4 linked regions of the Homo sapiens genome follow. The protein of the gene in region 3 purifies or fractionates together with the protein of the main gene of each other region. This does not show direct contact. Each region holds a gene or a part of one and is shown on either strand. Other genes may lie near its edges. The genes, in order: PEX7, GAB2, SST and PCDHGA9.

Region 1 (5,123 bases), on a different chromosome or scaffold from region 3:
ATCTTTATTGTTTCATCCCAAGAACAGTCAGCCACCTAGAAAACAAAAATGAAGTAAGAAGAAACGTATTTAGACATACAAAAATTCAAAATTGACAGCAAAAACTCAAGTCATTTAGAGTGTCGTAAATCATCCACTAGTAAACATATTTTTGAATAGGGAAAACATAGGGCTACGTTTTTGATAAAAGGTCCATATTCCCTTTTTAGGATATACCTCAGGGTATTCCAACTGATTCCCATTGATTGAGTATATTCCAATTGGTATATTTCAATTGACTGAGGTTTCCTATAAGAATGTCCCCCACCTTCACTTCACCCAACAGCTACATAATTCCCTACTATCTGATATAAATGTCGAAAAGATACGTTCCAGACTGTGAACAAGATGCTGTGCTCAATATTGTGGGACTGGAGAGGAAGATAAAGTAAAGCTCTTGCCTTCAAAAAATGGCTCATTCAAGACTGAGTGTGGAAGGTGCACTAACAGAGACTCTTAGGGGGACTATATGATTCCAGCTGGGACAGTGTCAGACAACTTCACAATGCCATGGCATTCCCACTGGACCTCTGTAGGAGGCAGACATAAAAGACAAGGACATTCACATCTACAGAGCCATAGGAAAACATGAAGGGAAGAAAGTCCAGGGTGTTCAGGAACTATGCATTAAAAACTTAGTGAATATAGCAATGTCTCCGGGTATAAAATTAATATATGAAAACCACTGTGTTTCTATATACTCGTTTTTTAATAGAAATGGATGAGGCAATTTTTAAAATTTATGTGGAAATGCCAGGACTTAGCCAAAAGAATCTTGAAATGAAACAAAGCTGCACTACTTAACACTAGCTGACTTCCAGACTCAGCACGAAACTACTGTAATCAAGACTGTGCAGGATTAGGATAAAGACAAGTAGATCAAAGGAAGAGAACAGAGTTCAGAAATAGGCCCCACACTTGGACAAATGGCTTTCAACAAAGGTACCAAAACAATTAAAGAGCAAAAGGAAAAAATAGTCTTTTCAATAAATGGTGGCAGAACAACTGAATATCCATAGGGAAAAAAGTGAATCCTGACCCCAACTTTGCACATAAAAATGAATTTGAGATGCACCACAGACCTAAATATAAAAGCAAACTGTATAACACTTTCAGAAAAAAAAAAAGGAAAATATATTCTCAATACAGAGGTAAGTAAAGATTTCTTAGGGATACAAAAAGTAATAATCAAAAATTTGGTAAGTTACACTCAATCAAAAATAAAACTTTTGCTCATCAAAAGACACTGTTAAGAAAATGAACAGGCAAGACACAGTTATATAAAATATTCATAAAATATACACCTGACAACTTGTATCAAGAATACATAAAGAACCAATACAACTCAATAATAAAAGGCAATCTAATGAAAAATGATGGGCAAAAGTAAGCACATAAAAAAGTGCTCAACATCATTAGGGATTAGGGAAATGCAAATAAAAATGACAATGAGATACCACCATATATTCACATTATGGCTAAAATTAAAGATTGACAACACCAAATGTCAGCAGGGATGTGGAACAGCTGTGATCACATACATTGCTGGTAGGGAAGGTATATGGTACCACCATTTTGGAAAACAATTTGGCCGTTTCTTACCAAGTTAAACACATACCTATCTTTTGACCCAGTAATTCCACTCCCAGATATTTGTCCAAGAAAAATGAAAACATATGTTTGCAAAACAATGTAGACACGAATGTTCATAGCAACTTCATTCACGATAGCAAAAAATCGAAAACAAGGCTGGGCAAAGTGGTTCATACCTGTAATCCCAGCATTTTAGGAGGCTGAGGCAGATGGATCACCTCAGGTCAGGAGTTTGAGACCAGCCTGGGCACCATGGTGAAACCCCACCTCTACCTAAAATACATAAAATGAGCCAGGTGTGGTGGTGTGCACCTGTAATCCCAGCTACTAGGGAGGCTGAGGTGGGAGAATCGCTTCAACCTGGGAGGCAGAGGTTGCAGTGAGCCGAGATCATGCCACTGCACTCCAGCCTAGGCAACAGAGTGAGACTCTGTCTAAAAAAAAAGGAAAACAACCAAAATACCCACTAACAAAAGAATCGGTAACAAATTGTAGTAAATTCATACAACAGCATGTGCTCAGCAAAACAAAGGGAGGAATTGCTAACAGGCTCAGTACCACGGGTGAAGCTCACAGGTAAGAGGCCAGAAACAAGTGAGGACATACAGAAGAGTTCCTTATAGAATTCTAAGACAGGCAAAACTCATCTAAGGTAAACAAACAAACAAACAAAAAGTCAGAACAATGTTACTCTTCTCACCTGGAGGGAAGGGTGGGGATAGGGGAGATTGGAAAGGGGTAAAAAGGAAACTGGGGGCTTTCCCAGTTTCCAATAACTGGGATGATGTGAATTTCACAGACGTATCTATTTGTCAAAAATGTATATCTAAGATTTGTAAATTTCAATATATGTGAATTATACCTAAAAATAGTAAAAATAATGTTAGCGATAACTAAACGATGTGTGAGAGTACAGGAATAAATAAAATAAGAATGTTGATAGTTGTTCAAGCTAAGTAATGAAGTTCGTTATCTGATTCTGTTACTTTGTATGTTTTCAAAATTTTCCACAATTTAAAAAAAAGAAGAAAAGAAACAAGGTAGGCAGTAAAATGAAAGATGAAGTAGCAAGAGAGTGCTTTTGACCAAAAGTATTTGCACTCCATTTCCCAGCCTTTCATGCTTATTACAAAGGCTGAAAATTACACAAGAGAAACCTCGTTTTGACTAATGTAATTTCTTGGCTATCACTAATTTTGAATAGTGATAGCCAATCATTCACTACCAATATTCTGAGATCAGAATCCAAGCTACAGAGAGCATTATAGACTTTTTAGTCAAACTTTTAAATTTAAAAACCTCACTCTTCAAGATCTGGTTGTTCCCATTTCATTTCTCATTGCACCGGGCTCACACCTCAAATCCAAGCATGCTGCTTATGCCTCTTCGCTCTTGTTCCTTTACTGATCGCTTCCCTTTAATAACTCCTCTTCTCCCTCCCTTTCTGTCTGCTCCTCTGTCCCCTTTGCCTTGCTCTGCCAGAGATGTCTCTTTTTTAAAAAATCAGTTTAGGTATCATCTCCTCTATGAAGTCATTCATTGTACCCATAATACTTGATTGTACTTATTTTCCCAACTGAAGACAAAGAGTTGTCTTCAGCTCTTTGAGGGCATGGACCATGTCTTATTAGAACATAACTCAATGAATATTGGCTCAACAAATTAATTTCATAGATTACAATTTCAGAGGTTAACTCTGTCCTCATGTTCACAATAGAGTAGCAGAGCTACAGCCAGAACCTAAACCTGTTGAATGTATCCACTAAAACAGTGCCTCATAGAAAAGGCAAACTGAAAACCATTATTTGCCTAATCTTGCAGTTTTCAGTTTTTATACCATAGGACACAAAGATCATTATGTTAAATTACCCCTGTCTCATCTATGCCTATTTTTTTCAAGTGCTGGGCCTTCCCACATGTTAAGCATCCGCTACTGGAGAGAAGAGAATCAGAGAAATAAGACTTAGGTTTCTAGTGCAAGGTATCTATAAATTATGTTTCTGAAACCTTATTCGGCACTCTCCAATCCAGCTTCTTATTTATTCAGGACTTATAATAACTACCAAATGTCAAGGCCACTGATTCAGCAAATGTTCATAAATCTATACTTAATTGGATTAAGATAGATCTAAAACTGCAATGATATAGAATTATGAATAGATTAATTCAAATTGATGAAAATAGTATTCCTCTATTTGTTAATTAAGCCCTATCTGGTTCTACAAATTTAAGCAAGCTAACAATAAAGAAAATAATAATAAGGTAAGAAAAAAGCACTTTACTAACTAACAAAGAGGCTCTAGATTCTCCAAGGTTGCTATGTAGGAACTTCCTGGTAAGGAAAAACTATTGTGCCATGTGGTCCCCAGGGGACCTCTTATTAATTATCACTGCCACTGCAATGGCTTCTGGTAGCACTGCAAGATTTTGTTGAGTAGAGAGAGCCCCTCACATAATAAAAAGCATCCAATTAGGTGTGAGGTCAGAGATGTGGGTAAAAGCAACAAGTTTTATGGGATTTGAAGGATATATATTTTGTTTGTTTGTTTTTAATTTCAGGAATATTTAGAGAAGTTTCACAGGGAGCTTGCCTTTGTGTCCTAAGAACTGTTTGTCAAATATTCCTCAGAATTACAAAGCTATCTAAAAGATAATTTATGTATACACCTATTCATCCATTTATTCAACAAAGACTTATTAAGAACCTCCTCTGTGTCAGAAGTATGTACAGGTTACGACAATAAACACAAGGGTCCTGGTCTCTGGCTCCACAGATCTTGATTGTAATGGAGAGACAGGTAAGCAAAGAGACACCTATACTGTAGCGTAATATGTAAAATGATAGAGGAATTATGGGGTCCCATAAAAGTAGGCAAGGGGCCATTATAATCGAATGTGAGGGAAGTGCCTGCTTTCAGGTGGAAGTAGTATCTAAGCTGAGGCTTAAAGGAGGAACCCGCTAGACAGCATTTGTTGCTGTTTTTGGGTCAGGGGCACAGTGGAAAAAAGGAAAATGTTCTAGGCAGTGGGATACATCCGAGTAAGTGAAGAACTGAAAGTTTTAGTTTTAAGGCAATTTAAAAGTTATAATTGCATTATAACTCCTCTGACGAAACTCAATCTTTCGAGAGGCAGTTTTTTTCTGAATCCCAACTAGGGTTTTTTGAAGGCTGGGGTATCTCTTGTTTGACTCTCTTCCCTTACAGTATGAGTGTGCATGTGGACACTCAAGGGCAGGGGCCTCCAGGCTCTACTGCTTCCGCCCAAGGATACACAAGTGGAAAATGTATTCCTTTACTCACAAGCCCCTGCTGTGGTACATTTCATCCCTATGCCCTTCTGAATTTCCTTTAAGCTAAGACCAACATGCTAATCTTTTCATCAAAGTCAGAATTAAAATTACTGACATTACAGAAAAAAAAATGGTTTGTCAAAATGTTATATTTCTTAATGTAAAATTTGAAGAGAGAACCAATCTTATTATTTTAAAA
Region 2 (6,202 bases), on a different chromosome or scaffold from region 3:
GCCTGACCCACTGTCCCATCCTAGGAACGGTCCTCATGTCACACCACCATGCACACCACTCTTGCACGTGTCCCTCCTTCACTTTCTGCTCCACCCTGCACCCCCAAGGATTGCGTTGGGCACCCCCCAACTCCCAGGCCCTTTGGATGTATTTCCCCACTTGCTACATGGCCTTCACCACTGCTTCACATCTGTCTGCTACCTCTGTGCCCGACTTCCACTGCACTGCTCACTGCAAAGAAACTCACTTCCCGACCCCACTGCAGAGTCCCCTGCACTGCCCTGTGCCTCTGCCCAGCCTGTGCCTGTCCCAGGGTTCCCCTCAGTCCCTGCATCACCCCCATCCACACCACACTCCCTCCCATATTCCCCACCCCTTTACCATGTGTTCCTGCCCCATGTGCTTGGTCGCCCAGCTTGGTCCAAGCCTTCCCCTGTATGCTGCTTTCAAGGTGGGGCTGGCGGGGGCCTCTGAGGGGACTGGGGAAGAGGACTAGCCCTTGGGCCTAGAGTGGCCTGTAGCTCCAGAGTTCTGGGGACCCAGACCCCACAGTGTCCTTGTCATCTCCACCACCCGAGCTCCAAGCCCTGCTCCTTGCTGCTCTAGGTTGGCCATCAGTTTTCCCTTCCTTTTGTCCTTCATCTTCTGCCTCTGCACCCCACAGCAGCTGTCCTGCCATGGCCTCAGCCTCAAAGTGGGTTCCCTGCAGATGTCAGCTTTCCCTCTTCATCTGGGCATCTAAGTCCTTTACCCCTCAAGACCACTGCTGAGCCTCCGTCTCCACCATCTCCTCTTTTAGTGGCCTTGCTTCTCTCCTGCCAAGAAAAACAGGAATGAAAAAGTCCATTATCCACTTTGGTTTGCTGGTCCTTGACTCCCTGGGTTGGTGAGACTTGTCTTCTGGGACTGAAGGAGAGGTAGCCCAGTGGCCGGAGGGAAGATAGCTGAGGGCTGTGACTGAACGTGAGGTGTGGAATCTGGCTCAGAGCCCCAGCCCTTCCCTCCAAACATCTGGTAGAGAGTCAGGTCTAAAGGACAGGAAGAGGCTGAAGGATGCTTTTTGGAAGTAGCTCCTAACTAAGGTGGGTGGAGGCATGGCCATTACTGATAAAAATCACAGCTGGGCCCCGAGTGGGCAGAGGAGGTGCCTTGATCAGGCCCTCACCTCCCAGGGGAAGGGTTCAGGGTCCCTGATGTCAAGTGCTTTGAAGGCTGAGACTGGCAGAGTAGAGAGGAGGTGGATGGGAGGAAGAACGGGAGAGGGGAGAGGGGAGATGGGAAGGGCCAGCTCTGGAGATGCTGCCTCCTGGGCTCTGCGGTGGCCCTCTCATCACAGCTTGGCACCCTTGGAAGGCTCTGAGGACTGCCGCACGTCTGTCCACTCCTGCATGGTGTTCTGCAGGGCCTGGGTCTTCTCCTTGTCCACCTGAACGTAGTCCACCTTCTCATCAGAGGTGACGGATGAAGTAGATGGCTGAGGGGACAGAGTGGGAAAGAGGGAGTAGCTGTGAGTTACCAGTTAGGTGGGGAGGAAGAAGGTGGGCACGGGATCTTCCTGAGCTGTCTGAAGGGGAGAAGAGCATGGCCTCTGCCTGCCACTGACCAGCCTCAGGAGCCTGGCTTCTCTTTCTGAATGTGGGCTTTAAAGCTCAGACTCCAAACTCATCATCCCTCCTGCAGGATGTAGCAGCACCTGCCAGCCCTTCTTACTTCCCGGCTTCTGGGAGGACCCAGGCCCTTCCTTGGCCCTGGTGGATGGGTCCAGGCCTTCATCTCTGCCTCCACCCATCTCTGTCAGGTCGCTCATCCAGGGGAAGGAATTTGCTAGGTGCAAACAAACATCAGCCACAGGACTTTACGTGCTGTGCTCACTGCCACCCTGTGAAGGGGAACCATGCTGAGGCACAGCTCTGCACCCTTCTGTCTAGACTGCTTAGCTATAAGGATGCCTCCTGGGGAGGCTTTCCCAGGCCTGGAAGTCCCTTCTGAAGGCTGATGTATCGACGGCAGGGCTCTGGACCCACTCGAGAGCCCAGGACCAGGAGGCAGTATCCTCATTCCTGGATCTGTTGCTGATTCACTTTGTAACCTTAGGACAATCAGATCTCTGTGCACTCATTTGCCCATCTCTACAACACGGGGGATGGGCTGACTGATGAGGTTCTCTGACTGAGGGTACTGTGCTCTGAGAGCAGGAATAGGAGTCTTTAGACCTAGATGAAAGCTCTATGACTAAAGATGCATCATAAAAGCTGGGTACTGGAGCAGGAGGGAGGCTGAGTGCTGCTGTTCAGTGTTGAAGGCACCCTGGCCTCCATGATCTCTGCCTCCGGGACCCTGAGAGCTCTTACTGCCCCCCCAACTCTACTCCAGGCACCTTGCGGTGGGGGCTTGGGGAGCTCGGCTGGAAGTCCAGGGCCAGATAATCAACGCTGCCGGTGCTCTTCTTAGGGGCAGGACTGTTCGTGCCACTGGGAACGGGAGATGCAGACACTGGGTTTTGCTGTCACGAGGAGGAAAAAACTGTGAGTGACTGCAGAAAACAGACTAACCCACCACCCAGAAAAACACCTCTGGGAGTAAGAACACTGTTTCCCTGAGCCCTACTCTGACACATGCACCATGCTAAGGACTTTTCATGTTTTCATTTTAATCCTCATGACAATCCTGTAAGGTAGGTATGATTACTGTTGATACTGTTTAAAGCAAAGATGAAACTGTGGTTCACTTTACTTTCAGAGAAGTGACTTTGCCTGTGGCTGCACAGCTGTTGAGTGATGGGAATCAGGTCTGTTTTCTGACTTCCAAACCTGTGCTAACCCCTGTACCACACTGCCTCCTTTCTAGCACATCAGGCCAAGTCTCATCAACAGTGGCTCTCCTGAGACATCCAGCCTTTGCTTGCTGGCGCTTAAGAAAGGAGCACATTTCCTTTATGCACTGGAAAGTTTTCTTCTGTCGCACCAAATCAGCCCCTGTGAAACTCCCACCTGTGGCCTAGAGTGGGGTAGTCACCCCAAAGCAGCTTGCTCCCCCGCCTAGCTCCTCCAAGATCTGAAGAGGGTGGCTTCATCTCCAGGCTGCACAAGCCCGCATTTCTTCAGATGACACGCTCTAGGATCCTGTCCATCCAGGCTCGTGCTCTAGCAGAGCACCACCTCCTCTAGAACTTTCTGGAAGTCTTATTCTAATGAGAAGGTGATAGTCCTGTGTTCTGTTTGTTGGCTGCTTTACTGGTTGGTTAATTCATTCTTTCACTATCTATGCAGTGACTACCAGGTGCTGGGCAGTTACGCCCTTAATGGAAATCTCAGGGAAGAAATATCCTCCTCTGCCTGTGTTGATAGCTCTATTATGGCCTCACCAAAGTGAGTTATGTGCACGTATGCCTCTCACCACTGAGGAGATACCTCCACCACTGAGGAGATACCTCCAGCACTGCCTATCCAAGGGCACAGATCATGCCACCCATGTCACTGTCATGAGAGGCAGGCCCCTGCTCTTGAAGACCATGACTTCGTTGGGACAGGTCTCATGTCTTCCTTACATCTGATGACAACTCCTACTGCTTGATAAACAGGTGCTCAAGAAGGGTTTGTAGCAGGAGACTAAATCATGAATAATACAAGGAGTCCCTGGGCTGAGGTGAGTTAGCTAAGCTGGGAAGTGGGGAACTGAGGGGTGGGTCCCAGGGGACTTGAAAGGCGTCATTCCAGCGAAGCCCGAAGGACTCACCATAGGGACATAGTTCTCTTCGCTGTCTCCTGAGTCTGTGCTGGTGATGCTCTGGGTGGAGATGGGGCGGCAGTACTGGGAGGAGCTGGAGTTGAAGGTGTGGCTGTTGTGGGAAGGAAGAGTTAACACTGGGGAAGCTGCATGGCTGCTGCCATGTTTCTAGCCTCCAGCTGGGCCCTGACCCTCACACACCCAGACCTCAGCCATTAGAGCTGCACACTCCATCAGATTAAGATCTGATATAGGGCAGGTATAATTATTCTCTTTTACAGCTGAGGAAACCAAGCCACAAGACATCGAGACATGATCAGCTAATGATAGCGTTAGCATCAGAATCCAGCTGTCCCGGCCCACAGGCCAGCTACCACATCACTCATTTTCCCTAATGGCCCGACTCCAAGCTCCCACCCCCACACATACGCACTTACTTGGCCCTAGACCAAGACTTGGTGATAGGTGACTTGAAGGGGAGTTCATCGATGACGGTGTTGTTCCTCAGGTCAAGTGGTGTTGGCTTTGCTGGAGCAGGAAAAGAAAGTCTGGTAATCAGCCAGTAATGATAATGCTACACATACACACCTTATATATAACACATGAGCATGTTTATAAAGGCCTGCAAAGTCATTCCAGTTTCACACAGGGAAACTGACGCTCAGCGAGGTTGTATAATCTTTGCCCATATTGATGAGCCTTGAAGTCATGTCTTCAGATTCCAAATTATATATTCTTTCTGCTGTATCTATGGTAATTATATTTTCAGAATCAAAAGTGGGGACACAGGGTTTGACAACAGATTTTTCTCCCTCAATTTATGACTTCATTTAAAAATAAAAGACTATATATAAAATATATTTATATATTAATATATTAATATTTATAAAAATATATACTATTTATATATTAACACACATATATGTATTTTTTAAGACGGGGTCTCACTCTGTTGCTCAGGCTGGAGTGCAGCGGCGCAATCTCAGCTCACTGCAACCTCTGCCTCCTGAGTTCAAGTGATTCTCCTGCCTCAGCCTCCCTAGTAGCTGGGACTATAGGCGCCTGCCACCACGCTTAGCTAATTTTTATATTTTTAGTAGAGACGGGGTTTCACTATTTTGGCCAGGCTGGTCTCGAACTTCTGACCTCAGGTGATCCACTCGCCTCAGCCTCCCAAAGTGTTGGGGTTACAGGCGTACAGGCGTGAGCCATGGCGCCCAGCCAAGAGACCATATTTGAAGTATAGATGGTCACCGTGACTACTCCCTGCTGCTCCTGGCCAGGTCGGTGCAAGCCACAGTGGAGGAAGGTAGATGCCATAAGGGCTTGAGGGCTTCAGTTCCAAATGCTAAGATTTGAATTCCCTGTTGGCCAGACCCACAGGGGGCTATCTCTGCCTAGCTATCCTACTCCTCCCTTTGAATCCTTGCCACTGATCCAATGCCAGGAGAGTGAGATTGTAGCAGACGAGGACCTTGCCTGGTCTACATGCAGGGGGCACAAAGCTGACTTTACTGAACGCCTGCTATGTACCAAAGTACTATCCTAGATGCTCTCCTTTGCAGCAAACCTGGGAGGTAGGAATTACCATCTGCATTTCACAGATAAGAAAACTGAGACTCAGATTTTACATGATTTGCCCCAAGTCACACCTCTCAAGTCCAGGATCCACATGACCCCTAAGCAAATGGAAAGAGTCCCTAGCCACTGTCCAGAGATGGGACAGGGGAAAGAATGGACTTACCTTTCCGATCAGGTTTGAGGTTGCGGTTGACAGGGGGTGGCTGAATCTCACTTCCTCTGCTGGGGCCTCGGTGCACAGGAAGGGTTGTTGATGGGTAGCCAAGTGAGTCAAAGTGATGGGCCCCTGGGCTCATTGGGATGTAGACGCTCTGGGAATTATCACCTGCTCGTTCCATGGCCAACAGGGTGGAAGAACCTGGATTCATGGGCACATAGTTGTCTTCAGAATTGGTGCTGTCCGATCGGCCCACAATCATTTTCCCTGGCTAGGGAGAGGAACAGTGAAAGAAATACAGCTGTTACTAGCAAGAAGAAACAGGAAGGGGGTAAGACTTTGTAAATGAGGCAAGACAAGTCATGACTGGGTTAGCTATACTTTGAAGCTGTAAGGGAGACCTTGGGGAGACCAAATAAGAAAGCAGAGTAGTGGGAGGCTGAGGCAGGTGGATCACTTGAGGTGAGGGGTTCGAGACCAGCTTGGCCAACATGGCAAAACCTCCTCTCTACTAAAAATCCAAAGTATTAGCTGGGCGTGGTGGCATATGCTTGTAGTCCCAGCTACTCAGGAGGCTGAGGCACGAGAATCGCTTGAAGCTGGGAGGCCAAGGTTGTAGTGAGCCAAGATCATGCCACTGCACTCCAGCCTGGGTGACAGAGTGAGACTCTGTTTCAAAAAATAAAAAATAAAAAAAAGGAAGCAGAGTGGGAGACAAGAATATATGAGGTCTGTGG
Region 3 (6,019 bases):
TAAGCTTTAAATTAAAAATATGTATATATGTGAGCATATGACTACATAATTCTTGCCAATTATTTTCTTTTTTTTTCTTTTTCTTTTTTTTTTTTTTTTTTTTTTTGAGAAGGAGTCTCACTCTGTCACCCAGGCTAGAGTGCAGGGGTGCAATCTCTGCTCACTGCAAGCTCCGCCTCCCGGGTTCATACCATTCTCCTGCCTCAGCCTCCCCAGTAGCTGGGACTACAGGCACCCGCCACCACGCCAGGCTAATTTTTTTGTATTTTTTTTAGTAGAGACGGGGTTTCACCCTGTTAGCCAGGATGGTCTCGATCTCTTGACCTCGTGATGCACCCACCTTAGCTTCCCAAGCCAATTATTTTCATACTACCATTGAGAACTGACAACAAAGATGGTACTAAAAACTCGAAATCCCCTGACACTCATACACAGCCCAGAAAATCATTAAGTTGTGTTCTCATCTGTGCTGTAATTATAATATGATGCTGTTACTCCACTGAATTTTTTGGTAGCCAGTGTACATAAGGCCTTTGGCACAGACAGATCCCATAAGTGGACATGCATTAATCCCCACACCTAAATGTCTTGCAAATAAAAGGTATACCAGAACATCAAAGGATGTTCTGTTTTCACAGAGATTAGTAAAGTGGCTTGGCTTTTTTTCTTTTGTTTGATCAGCTGTTAGAAATTAACTTCCTCTAAGCCAACCACATTCAAATGTGTATTATCTAACACAAATATTTTCTATAAAATATTAAGCTCCTCTTAAATGTTTATATGATACTATCAGTTAGTTTATACTACAAGGATTTATATTGAGCATACATATTTATGTTTGGTTTTTATTCCAGTAGCTATGCAGAAATGCAGTTGATAGCTAAAACACACATCCCCCAAAGGATATCTCTTTAGGTCTCAGGAAGTTAAATTAGCAATGTTTACATTCTGTCTTGAGTGATCCCATTTAGCATGTTGTTATAAGACTATCACCTTTACTGAGTGTTTAAGAATAATTTTTGTGTTTTTATTTGACTCCCATATTGATAGAATTAAGAGAAGACTTGAGATATCTCCTTCAGCTATTTCATAATTATGATTTTGAGCTCCAATACCTGCAATATAGATAGCACTCAGTGAGGTAAGCCAATATGCATTTCTTGCAACCTATAGTACTTCCAGAAGGAATCTTATAATAAAAGTGATATTTCTCCCTGAGAAAAAATATCTTAAAAGCTTGCTTTTAAAACAGTCATTTAGCACTGTTCAATTAGAGAGGATTGTCAAAGAAGACACAAAAGCAATGGTATTTCTCTAGATAAATGTTTACAAACTAGAAACAAATTCAGAACCTCATTTTAGCTATTTAAGTCAGATTTTTTCTCAACCACCAAATGACTTTGTTCCTTCCATCTTTTCATATGTTATGTATTTTACATATCAACCTGGTAGATAGTTGGATTTTTCAGCCTAACTATTCACACACACTCATTTCAATAGTCCAACATATAATTTAGGTGTACTTAATATGTAATTAATGTTTATGTCAGCCTCTCCCAGTAATTATCATTGAATTAAAGTTTGAATGCATAGAGTTATGTGAAATTATTTCTGTTTAAAATGACTCATGTTATAATAGTTATCATTTAAAATGTAAACTTTATTGCCACCGAGAATTTTAAATAGATGTTTGTGAACATTGGAGTACCTATCTCAAATAACTTTACTGAAACCGCCACTCAAGCTTATTATGTATTATTGAACAAAAAGATTTACTCAATAGAAACCAAATTCACATTTTTCATAATTTCACCATAATTTTATTTTGTATTTACAGTTTTCAGTTTCTAATGCAAGGGTCTCGCTGAAGACTTGGAGGATTAGGGAAGAGAGATGGGGTGTGGGGGCGAGGGATCAGAGGTCTGATATGGACAATACTAGTTAAGAAAGCTAACAGGATGTGAAAGTCTTCCAGAAGAAATTCTTGCAGCCAGCTTTGCGTTCTCGGGGTGCCATAGCCGGGTTTGAGTTAGCAGATCTCTGCAGCTCAAGCCTCATTTCATCCTGCTCAGCAGCCTGGGACAGATCTTCAGGTTCCAGGGCATCATTCTCCGTCTGGTTGGGTTCAGACAGCAGCTCTGCCAAGAAGTACTTGGCCAGTTCCTGTATAGGGCAGAAGGGATAGAAAAAGAGAGAAAGAGAAGTGGGGAGGACAATGGAAAAAATTTGAAAAGCCTAAATTAAAGAACAGATTTGGTCACACACAAAATCCAGTTTTTACAGCTGCGCATTTTTTGTCACATTTAAAATCAATCAAGGATATAAAAATAAGGATAGTTGCTATAATTACCAAGTTACACAAAAAGGCTTTAAGAGCTCAAATGTTTCTGCAACCTTTCTGTCCCTGTAGACTTAACACACACACACACACACACACACGCACAAACACACACACACACACACACACACACATAAAGACCGTTCTGGTAAGATAAAGTGTGTGCCAACAGTTTAATTCAATTTTCACATCACGAGCTACAAAGTAGAATTGTTTTACCATTTTTACCAAGTAAACTGTAGGGGAACGAGACTTCTCACAATCTCAAACATACGGCGTTCGGTCTTTAGATTGCCCCTTTGCCCTAGTCCCGACGTTTGGAAGTGAGGTACGCTAAGAGGTAGCAGCTTCAGAGGTCTGCGTTTCAGCACCTGGGTCAGCGCTTCCCAGGGTCAGCACCAGGGATAGACGCCATTGTCGCTTCGTGCCCAGACAACTACCCAGATTTTGTAATTTTCTTGAATGCCAAGTAAGAACTCACCTGAACTGTGACCGACTGCGCTTATCATGGGGGAAAAAAAGAGTTAGAAGGGGATTCTAGCCTTTGATAGTTTTCTCAAGAGCTTCGGGAGCTGAGGGACCCAGAAAAGCACCAAAACTCTTTAGAAGGACTGAGCATCCCTTACGTCCAAACCAATGGGGCAGGAGCAAGGCTTAGGGAGGGCTGGAGAATCCGGGAGACGTCGAGGGAGTCTCCTTACCTGCTTCCCCGCGGCAGCAGCCAGGGACTTCTGCAGAAACTGACGGAGTCTGGGGTCCGAGGGAGCGCCGGTGACACAGCCCAGGGCCAGGACGATGGACAGCGCAGCCAGCGCGCACTGGAGGCGGCAGGACAGCATCTCGGCGCCGCGAAAGCCGAGCTGGAGAGTGGCTGGTCAAACTCTAGGCGCGGATCAGCAGGCAGCAGCGATGGCTCCGAACCTCGCTCCTAAAGCGGCTTGTGTGCTCTCAACCGTCTCCCTCTGTTTTAAACTCTCTCTCTGACGTCAGGCTAGGAGGCGCCCCCAGATCTCACCAGCCCTTTTACGCACCATTAGCCTCGCAAAATCAATCACAGAAGACAGGGGAGGTGACAAGATCTAAAGTGGCTTACTTAAAAAAAAAAAAATACTGCACACGCACAGGCACACACAATTCCACATGCCCCACGATTTATACAATCTTTTATTTTCACTCAGTGCTATGAGCATACACATTCCACAATTTCACTCCCACACATGCACACTCAATTACACACAAACAGAGGCTCAAACACTCAGCTCTTAAAGAGCAAATACACTATCACCCTTAAATGCACACAAATGTACCCAGACAACTCCATCTGTCATCATACTCTAACATTTTAGGAAGGCCCAACAAGCAACAGGGCATGTGTATGGTAGGTGGAGATCAGAATCATTCCTCTAATAACAGATTTGAGAATGAAATATGGACAGTAGAAGGACTGAGCCCTCTTTATTTCCTCCATTATCTCATAAAAAGCCTTGAAGATGTAACGGGGCTCTAAAAGAACTTCACTTTTCTCTACAATGGGGGAGAAGGTACCTCTGGCTCACCCTCCCTCCCTCTTTCTCAGCAACTGAGACTTCTGATCTACCTGCCTTTCTATTGTGACCATATATATGTATGAGTGTGTGTATATGTACGGGAGGGAAAGAGAGAGAGAGAGATTGAAATGGACTTCATTTTGGTGCTGAGAAATTTAGAGCTGGAAGGCAATCTAAGAAATTATTCAATAAACCTCAGAATTTGAATCAGTAAGGCAGAGTAATGGTCAGTAAATTGTTCTCCTTCACATACTGCACACTTTGAGCAAAACCAGACCTCCACATTCCAAAGCCAGTGTTCCTTCTACTGAGCTCTGAGTTTTCTAACAGATTCCTGGCCGGTAAGCATAGTTTTATGTCAGGAAGCCCCAGTTTAGACATATAAGGTCTAGGAACTCCCAGAACATATGTGACCACTATTGTATATCTATATGTGGAAAGGATCAAAAGATTCTTGGTTAAATTCAGCTCTGCCTGATCTCCTAGAAACAAAGAAAGTTTAAGAAAACCTGTCCTTGAATTCTGATTGAACTCTGGTTAAATGTTTACTGTTCAGGCCAGAGTTCTGACTGCTTTTATCTAAATAGTTCCTTACTGAGGAAGGACCAGCTAATTTCCTAGCATGGACGAGATGATCCCTACAGGATCTTTAAGAGCTGTTATCTTATGAGCTTCAAAAAAGCCAATATTAGCTAAAAAGATATGCTGCATCTCTGGAAACCATGCGAAGCTCATATTAGGTATTAAAATATTCTCAGTACTTAGACCCGAACCACAGTGTTGAGAGGCAGAAGGGTTTGGGAAGTATCCTGAATGGCTTGAATAATTGTCACTATTTCTTTTTGTGCTTGTAATCCAAGGCAAAGCGGAAATGCACAGCAAGAAGTGTTAAAGTTTCCAGGTCTTGACAAGGCCAGCCAAGACTAAGCACAAAGTGGGGCATTAAAAAGTCATTCACATGTGTTGGAGTAGTCTAAGAGATCAATGAATCTGGAGCTGTGGAACCCAGTCCTAGGAAATACATGTTATATTCTCTAAATCTTGCAACTCTCTCTGGCCTCTAAGGACTCAGAGTTTAGTTCTATCACTGTGACTGTCTCTAGGTACCTCCAAATGATCTCATATCTCCTGTACCCAGGATGTGGTCTTTGGCATACCCACTGAGTAGGAAACGAGGATTTTTCCAAAGCAGGAGCCAGCCGAAGAACAAATAGCAGCTCCCCATCTTCCCCTGTGCTCTAGGATCTCTTCTGTCTCCTTCCCCAGACGCTTGCTCCCCTCCTTCCACATCCTTGTGCTCTCCCTCTACACTTTCTCCTCCTTCTTATTCCTCCTTTTCCTTAACCTTTCTGCAAATTTATGTTTCAGAATTTTCCTCACTCAATCCTTCTTTTGTCTCCTCTCTTGACTCTGTATCCTCATTCCTTTGTTTTTCTTGCTCTTCTCAATCATTTTCTGACTTTGGTTTGGGTCAGCCCGGCTCTTTCCCTGCCTTCTCACCCTGCTTAGCCAGTGCCTATCCCAGTCTCTGCCTCAAGACATCTCTCCCTCTCTTTTCTCTCCTCTTTTCTTTCTTCTTCCCTCCTCAACTGCTTCTCACCAAAAACAAACAAACAAAAAACCTCATGATGTCTATCTGTTTAAGTATCTACTTATGAATAGTAAACAGTTGCTTCCCTCATACCCTGCTGAAGAGCTGAAGCTGTAAATGAGATGACTTAAGGGTTTTGCTTTTGTTGTTTTATAACTCCTGGAGAGTTATGAGTCTGAGAACCACTTATCAGAGAAGCCAGGACAAAAAGGGACATAAATTCTCCCTTAAGCCCTCCATGGCCAGTTATAGCTTAAAGGTTGGTTTAGCATGAAGCACTTCAAACTTTCCCAACCTGAGCCTTCTGTAATCAACCCCCAGGGCATCTCTCCCAAGTCTCAAAGCTGGAAGGGTAAAGTGTTTTGTGGTTGTATTGGGGACGCTATTGCCCAGACCAACCAAACTCACTAGGAATCCTTACCCAGTCCTCTGTTGCTCACAAAACACTTTCTCATCCAACACTTCAGGGCATGCTATTCCCACCTCACAGAGGAGGAAACTGAGGTCCTGAGACCTTCAGTGCCTTACAAGAGGGCACACAGG
Region 4 (6,202 bases), on a different chromosome or scaffold from region 3:
TTATGAACCAAATACATAGTGAAAACTATAATTGAAAAAACATTGAGAAAATATTGTAAAAAGCTATGGATTTTAAACATATGATTCTAGATATGAAAATAAAGTAGTATGCCTAAAATATGAGAAACTAGTAGACTATTAGATAAATCACACACAAAAAAGAGAAACTCACCGAAGTCAGAGTCTCAGGATGTGAAGTCAAATCCTCCCCACCATGAGGTGGAATTAAGGCTCCAGGAGAAACACTGCAAACCATGTCTTCATTGGAATGTAGGGGCACACTGCATTTTAGGAAATTAAACTCTTTTGTACCCGTATGTGCAATGCACAGATTATAAGAATAAGGCAAAGTCCCCTCACTGTAGTTGGGGGGAACTACAGGTCCAGACTTGACACAGAGACCAGGATGGAAGCAGTCCCAAGTAGCAGGGCTGAGAGAGCGTCGCAGGCGCAAGGCAATGGCCAGAATCACGGCGAGGAGGAAGAGCACTGAGATTAAGGCCAAGGCCACCACCAGGTAAAACTGCAGTTCAGCCTGGGGGTCAGAGAGTACAGGGCGGTCGCTGAGGTCTGGCAGTATCTCTTGCAAGTTGTCTGCGAAGACCAGATGAAGCGTGGCGGTGGCAGAGAGTGGCGGCTGTCCACCGTCACGCACAGCGACCAGCAGGCGCTGGCGGGCTGCGTCCCTGTCGCCTAAGGCTCGAGCCGTGCGCACCTCCCCAGTGCGCAGCCCCAGGCTGAAGAGTCCGGGCTCACTGGCCTGCAGCACGTGGTAGGACAGCCAGGCGTTGTGTCCCGAGTCGGCGTCCACCGCTACCACCTTAGTCACTAGGTAGCCGGGCTCTGCAGAGCGAGGTACCATATCGAAGAACGCGGAGCCGTCAGGACCCAGAGCTGGGTACAGCACCCGCGGTGCGTTGTCATTGCGGTCTCCCACCAACACGCGCAGGCTCACGTTGGCGCTGAGCGTGGGCGAGCCGTGGTCGCGGGCCTGCAGCGTGAGCGCGAAGGCGCGCAGCTGCTCGTGATCAAAGGCGCGCTGCGCGAACACCACCCCGCTCTGCGCGCTCACTGACACGTATGACGACACCGCCAGGGGCTCTAGGTCACTCGCCACTATAGAGTAGGAGATGTGGCCATTGAGCCCCAAATCCGGGTCAGAGGCGCTCACTTGCGCAATGGAGGCTCCTGGCGGGTTGTTCTCGGCCACGTGGACCACGTAGGACGTCTGGTCGAAAACTGGGGCGTTGTCGTTGATGTCAGCGACATACAAGGTGATGCTTCTACTGGAAGAAAGAGGCGGCTTGCCCCTGTCAGTGGCTACGATGGTGACATTGTATTCTGGTGTCTGCTCTCGGTCCAGGGCTCCATCTGTCACCAGTTTGTAGTAGTTATTGGAAGAAGAATAAATCTTGAATGGAATGTCTGTTTCTATATTACACCTGACTTCTCCATTTCCTCCGAAATCCAGATCCCGTGTTTTGAAGAGGGCAACAACCATTCCTGGAGGTGAATTCTCCAAAATCTGATCAGAGAGAGAAGTGATGATTATTTCTGGGCTGTTGTCGTTTTCATCAAGGATTTCTATGATTACTTTACACTGGGTAGAGAGACCACCTCCGTCCTTCGCTTCCACTTCCATGGTGTACCTTTCTACATCTTCAAAATCAAATGACTGGTTATTCTTAATCATACCTGTTTTCTCATCCAATGAGAACATATGTTTTGTGCTCTGGGCAGTGCTTCGGAAGTAGTAGTTTATCTCAGCATTGACCCCCTCATCCTGGTCAGTGGCTGTCACTTGCAACACAGGGGACCCAGGGGGCAGATTTTCACTAAGACTAATTCTATATTCGTCTCTGCTGAAAACCGGGGGGTTATCATTGGTATCCTTGACAGAAATTTCTATGTGAGCGGTGGCACTTCTTGGTGGGTCCCCTCCGTCCAAGGCAGTCAATATCAAGCTATGAGATCTCTGTTCTTCCCGGTCTAGGAGTTTCTCCAGAGATAACTCTGGGTATTTGCCACCATCGGAATTAACTCTAACCATTAATGAAAAATAAGGATTAGAGTTTATCTTATAATCTTTAATTGAGTTTATGTTTATATCAGGATCCGTGGCAGGGTCAAGCGATAGTCGTGTACCAGCGGATGCAGATTCGAAAATTTCTAAATGTATTTCCTTTTTATCAAATTGAGGGGCGTGGTCATTAACATCCTCAATCACCACAATGACATGAAAAATATTTAAAGGATTTTCCACCACAGCTTCCAATTGCAACTCACATCTTCTTCTCTCTTTGCATATTTGCTCACGGTCTATTCGGTTCTTCACAAGTAAGTCCCCGCTCTCCGCGTCTACGCTGAAGTGCAGCTTCTCCGCGCTCACTCGCAGCTTGCGAGCCGACACATCCAGGACACTGAGCCCTAGATCCTTAGCGAGGTTCCCCACCACCGAGCCCTTGGCCAGCTCCTCCGGAATCGAGTAGCGGATCGGCTCACTCAGGGTGGGGTAGAACAAAGGCAGCAGCAAAGGAAATAGCACCTGCCGCGGGCCGGCCCGGCGCCTCTGCGCGCAGCTCCCTCCCATCGTTCGCTCGGGTTCTCGCTGGGTCCCCGCTTTTCCAGTTGGAGAAAGTGCACTCTACCGCGCTAAAAGAGCATTCGGCCCAGGACAGGAGGAGTCCCGGGTCTCGGAGCTGGCAATCCGCTGTGCTGGGAAAGGTCTGCGCAGCCGGGAGGCTCTGTGTGGGAGCTGGTTTTCTTCTTTCTGTTGTTGGCTGCGCAGGGAATCCCAGGCCAGAGGCTGACGGATCCCCGGCGTCAGCGCTTGCTCTGCACTGGCCGACAGCGGCGCCCAGAGGCTCCGTGCGGGACAGCAGCCCGGTTTTTCATTTTGAATTCGGTCTCCGAAATGTATATATTCTTCGAAAATGCAGGTGTACATCCCCCTCAAATTTTGCTCTCACCATAATATTATAGTAGATATTTCTATGCTTTGTGTTTTAAATAAATCTATTATGCACAATTTCAAACTTATACAACAGTAGGGAGTATATATAGTGAACCTTCACATAGCCATCACCCCACCTTCAACAATGATCACCACAAAGCCAATCTTTGTTTAATATATACTGCGCTCCCCCATTATTTTTAAGTAATACGAGATATAGAATGTCAACCAATGCTTCTTTTTAAGATGAGACATTAAGGTCAAGAATTTTATCTTTCAGCTTATGTTCTACAATCTGTTACCAATGCACAATAAGTTAAGTCCTACATAGCCTAAGAAAAACAGAAATAAAGATTTTCCATACTCCATTCAGTCATCTGTCTGGTGAGCCTCGTGTTCTGGTTTTAAGGGCAAGAGACATTTTTGTGGTATCGAATAGTAACTACCTACCATGACATACAAGCCTTCATGGATATCTGTTATGTTTTCCCCAAATTAACATACATTTCAATATTTATAAATACTAAGTATGAAGGCTACTCCTCAGAACAGAAATTGTAACAATTTTCTTGTTGCATGGTTAAAAATATGAGCCTGAAGTATGCTTTATTTTTTTTGCTACCCACTTAAGGGGGAAAACGTGTTTGAAATAATTAAAATGTCTGTATGTCATAAAGGATTCCCAGACACTTCAGCTTTTTTTTCTTAAAAATAAAGCAACTGAAACCCAAATAATTACAAACAAATAAAACAATTCTTCATTTCCACAGAAATGCCAGCAGTCATCAGTGTATCTATGGATCACATGTTTAGCATAGAATTTTGAGTCAACTTCAAAGCTTATTTTCAAATGTCTTGTGAAATGTTATTTACTATTTGAAACAACACTATGTTTAAAATAACATTAAATAATACATTATTCTCTTCCTTATAGCTAAAAACAGTAAAATAGTTTTAGAATCTTCCCAGCAGTTCCTGAGAATATTTTCTTAAATTATATCTGATATGCAAGTTCATTTCTAGACTCAAAAGTTGGAGAATTGAGCCAGAAATAATATATAAGTGAGAGAAATATTTTTAATTCCTTGTTTTGTCATTTCACAGTGTCCAGTCTTAGAAACTTCTCTTGAGCAAGCATATACTATAGAAAAGAAGAATGTCCTACTATTCTCCATAATTTAACATTAAAGCATTAGGAAATTAAGACCTTTGAAGATATGAGAATAAAAGATGTGACAACTTTCACCATTAAAGGGAAAAAATTGGTTTACTAGGGTTTGGAAGTGGATAACTGAAGTTTGAATCTTCGTCAGAAAATATCTGTAAACACAAACAGACTTTACACACTTGTGATCTGAAAAATATAACCTCAAAGAGGTGTTTTCCTGTCATAGAAATGGAAGAATAGAAGCAATAAATCTGGGCTTTCAGCTGTTTCTCTAAGAAGAATACATTTACCTTTTTATCAGTTTACCCTTACAAACATAGTATGACCTGAATAAATGATCGTAGGAGTAAGAATTTGCTGGGTGAGGTGGTTCACACCTCACCCAGTGCTTTGGGAAACTGAAGCAGGAAGATCGTTTGAGACCAGTCTGGGCAACATAGCTTGCTAGCCCTCCCACCTCAGTCCTAGCTACTGTGAAGGCTGAGGTGGGAGGATTGCATAAGCCCAGGAGATTGAGACTGCAGTAAGCTTTACCCACACCACTGCATTCCACCCTGGACAACAGAATGACACCCCCATCTCTTAAAAAAAAAAAAAAAGGAGTAAGAATTTTATGATATGAGTCCACTGCAACCAATGAAGCAACCCTACCCAAAAAGCCCACATCAATGCAGGCTGAGAGCTACCCCATGAAGTATGGTTTACGTTGACAGCAGGTTAATTATTATGAGAACATGAAAGTTATATCAGCAAATATAACTAATAAATGCCTCCTTTCAGTGTTGGAGCAACAATTAGGCCCAGTGAAAAGTGATGAGAAACACACTGATATCAACTTATACTACCTTAAGTACAGACAGTTAAAGAGAAAGCTAACTATAATAGAAAGTTAAGGGCCAGGCGCAGTGGCTCACGCCTGTAATCCCAGTGCTTTGGGAGGCTGAGGTGGGTGGATCACTTGAGGTTAGGAATTCAAGACCAGCCTGGCCAACATGGTGACACCCCGTCTCTACTAAAAACACACAAAAAATTAGCCGGGCGTGGTGGCACGTGCCTGTAGTCCCAGTTATTCTACTTGGGAGGCCTGTAGTCCCAGCTACTCTACTCTAGTCCCAGCTACTCTACTTGGGAGGCTGAGGCAGGAGAATCGCTTGAATTTGGGAGGCGGAGGTTGCAATGAGCCGAGATCACACCACTGCATTCCAGCCTGGGTAACAGAGTAAGACTCTGTCTCAAAAACAAAACAAAACAAAAAACAAAAAAAGAAAAGAAAGAAAGAAAAAAAATGAACTCACCGGAACCAAAGGGGTGTCTTCTATAGGAAACTTGGAATCAACAGAGACGCACAAAGGCTCATTTTTCTCACAGCTCTGCTGGCTGATGAGTGTGTCTGCATAGTTGGGCTGGGGGAAGATCAGGTGACTCTTCCTTGAGTCAGCGGTGAGGGAGAACTCCTGAGAATAGGTCTGTAGGAAAGCTCGAACCCCATCTACACCCACAAAGTGTGAGGTGGGCACACCAGCCAACCCATCACTGGTAGCCCGCAGCAGATGCGAGGAGTGCCAGTGCCTCAGCCTGAGGGCCAGCAGCGTGATAACGAAGGTGAGGAAGACACAGGAGACGACTGCCACAGCCACAACGAGGTAGAGGGTAAGGTCTGAGGCCTCCAGGTCTGCAGGGATCTGAAGACTGCCCAGGTCAGCCAGGATGTCTGGGATGCTGTCAGCTATGGCTACTGTGAGCGTGACAGTGGCCGAGAGAGGGGGCTGGCCATGGTCCTGTACAGCCACCACAAGGCTCTGTTTGAGCGCATCTCTATCTAGCAGGGCCCGAGCTGTGCGCACTTCACCTGTGTGCAGCCCCACCGAGAAGAGCCCTGGCTCACTGGCCTTGAATAGGCGGTAGGAGAGCCAAGCATTCTGGCCTGAGTCTCTGTCCACTGCCACCACCTTGGTCACCAGGTAGCCAGGCTCTGCAGAGCGGGGTGCCAGCTCCACACCAGTAGAACCATCAGTGGGGAGGGCAGGGTACAGGATTTCTGGGGCATTGTCATTCTGGTCCAAAACAAACAGTCTCAATGA

What was found.
Region 1: the proteins of SST (region 3) and PEX7 purify together in Homo sapiens (co-immunoprecipitation; one large-scale study listed by IntAct). This does not show direct contact.
Region 2: the proteins of SST (region 3) and GAB2 purify together in Homo sapiens (co-immunoprecipitation; one large-scale study listed by IntAct). This does not show direct contact.
Region 4: the proteins of SST (region 3) and PCDHGA9 purify together in Homo sapiens (co-immunoprecipitation; one large-scale study listed by IntAct). This does not show direct contact.

Annotation. Positions count from the first base shown.
Region 1 is NC_000006.12:136,908,370-136,913,492, reverse strand, and holds part of PEX7 (peroxisomal biogenesis factor 7), read right to left. Parts: intron 36-5,123; coding exon 1-35. UniProt on the Homo sapiens protein: Receptor required for the peroxisomal import of proteins containing a C-terminal PTS2-type peroxisomal targeting signal. Specifically binds to cargo proteins containing a PTS2 peroxisomal targeting signal in the cytosol.
Region 2 is NC_000011.10:78,217,941-78,224,142, forward strand, and holds part of GAB2 (GRB2-associated-binding protein 2), read right to left. Parts: intron 5,737-6,202; coding exon 5,472-5,736; intron 4,588-5,471; exon of another isoform or gene 4,256-4,587; coding exon 4,165-4,255; exon of another isoform or gene 3,840-4,164; coding exon 3,737-3,839; exon of another isoform or gene 2,849-3,736; intron 2,505-2,848; coding exon 2,379-2,504; intron 1,476-2,378; coding exon 1,332-1,475; 3' UTR 1-1,331. UniProt on the Homo sapiens protein: Adapter protein which acts downstream of several membrane receptors including cytokine, antigen, hormone, cell matrix and growth factor receptors to regulate multiple signaling pathways.
Region 3 is NC_000003.12:187,667,115-187,673,133, forward strand, and holds SST (somatostatin preproprotein), read right to left. Parts: upstream 3,281-6,019; 5' UTR 3,178-3,280; coding exon 3,040-3,177; intron 2,164-3,039; coding exon 1,951-2,163; 3' UTR 1,798-1,950; downstream 1-1,797.
Region 4 is NC_000005.10:141,404,591-141,410,792, reverse strand, and holds part of PCDHGA9 (protocadherin gamma-A9 isoform 1 precursor), read right to left. Parts: coding exon 5,417-6,202; coding exon of another isoform or gene 5,354-5,416; exon of another isoform or gene 5,294-5,353; intron 2,773-5,293; exon of another isoform or gene 2,591-2,772; coding exon of another isoform or gene 128-2,590; intron 1-127. Other genes in the region: PCDHGB6 (protocadherin gamma-B6 isoform 1 precursor), read right to left, coding at 173-2,590. UniProt on the Homo sapiens protein: Potential calcium-dependent cell-adhesion protein. May be involved in the establishment and maintenance of specific neuronal connections in the brain.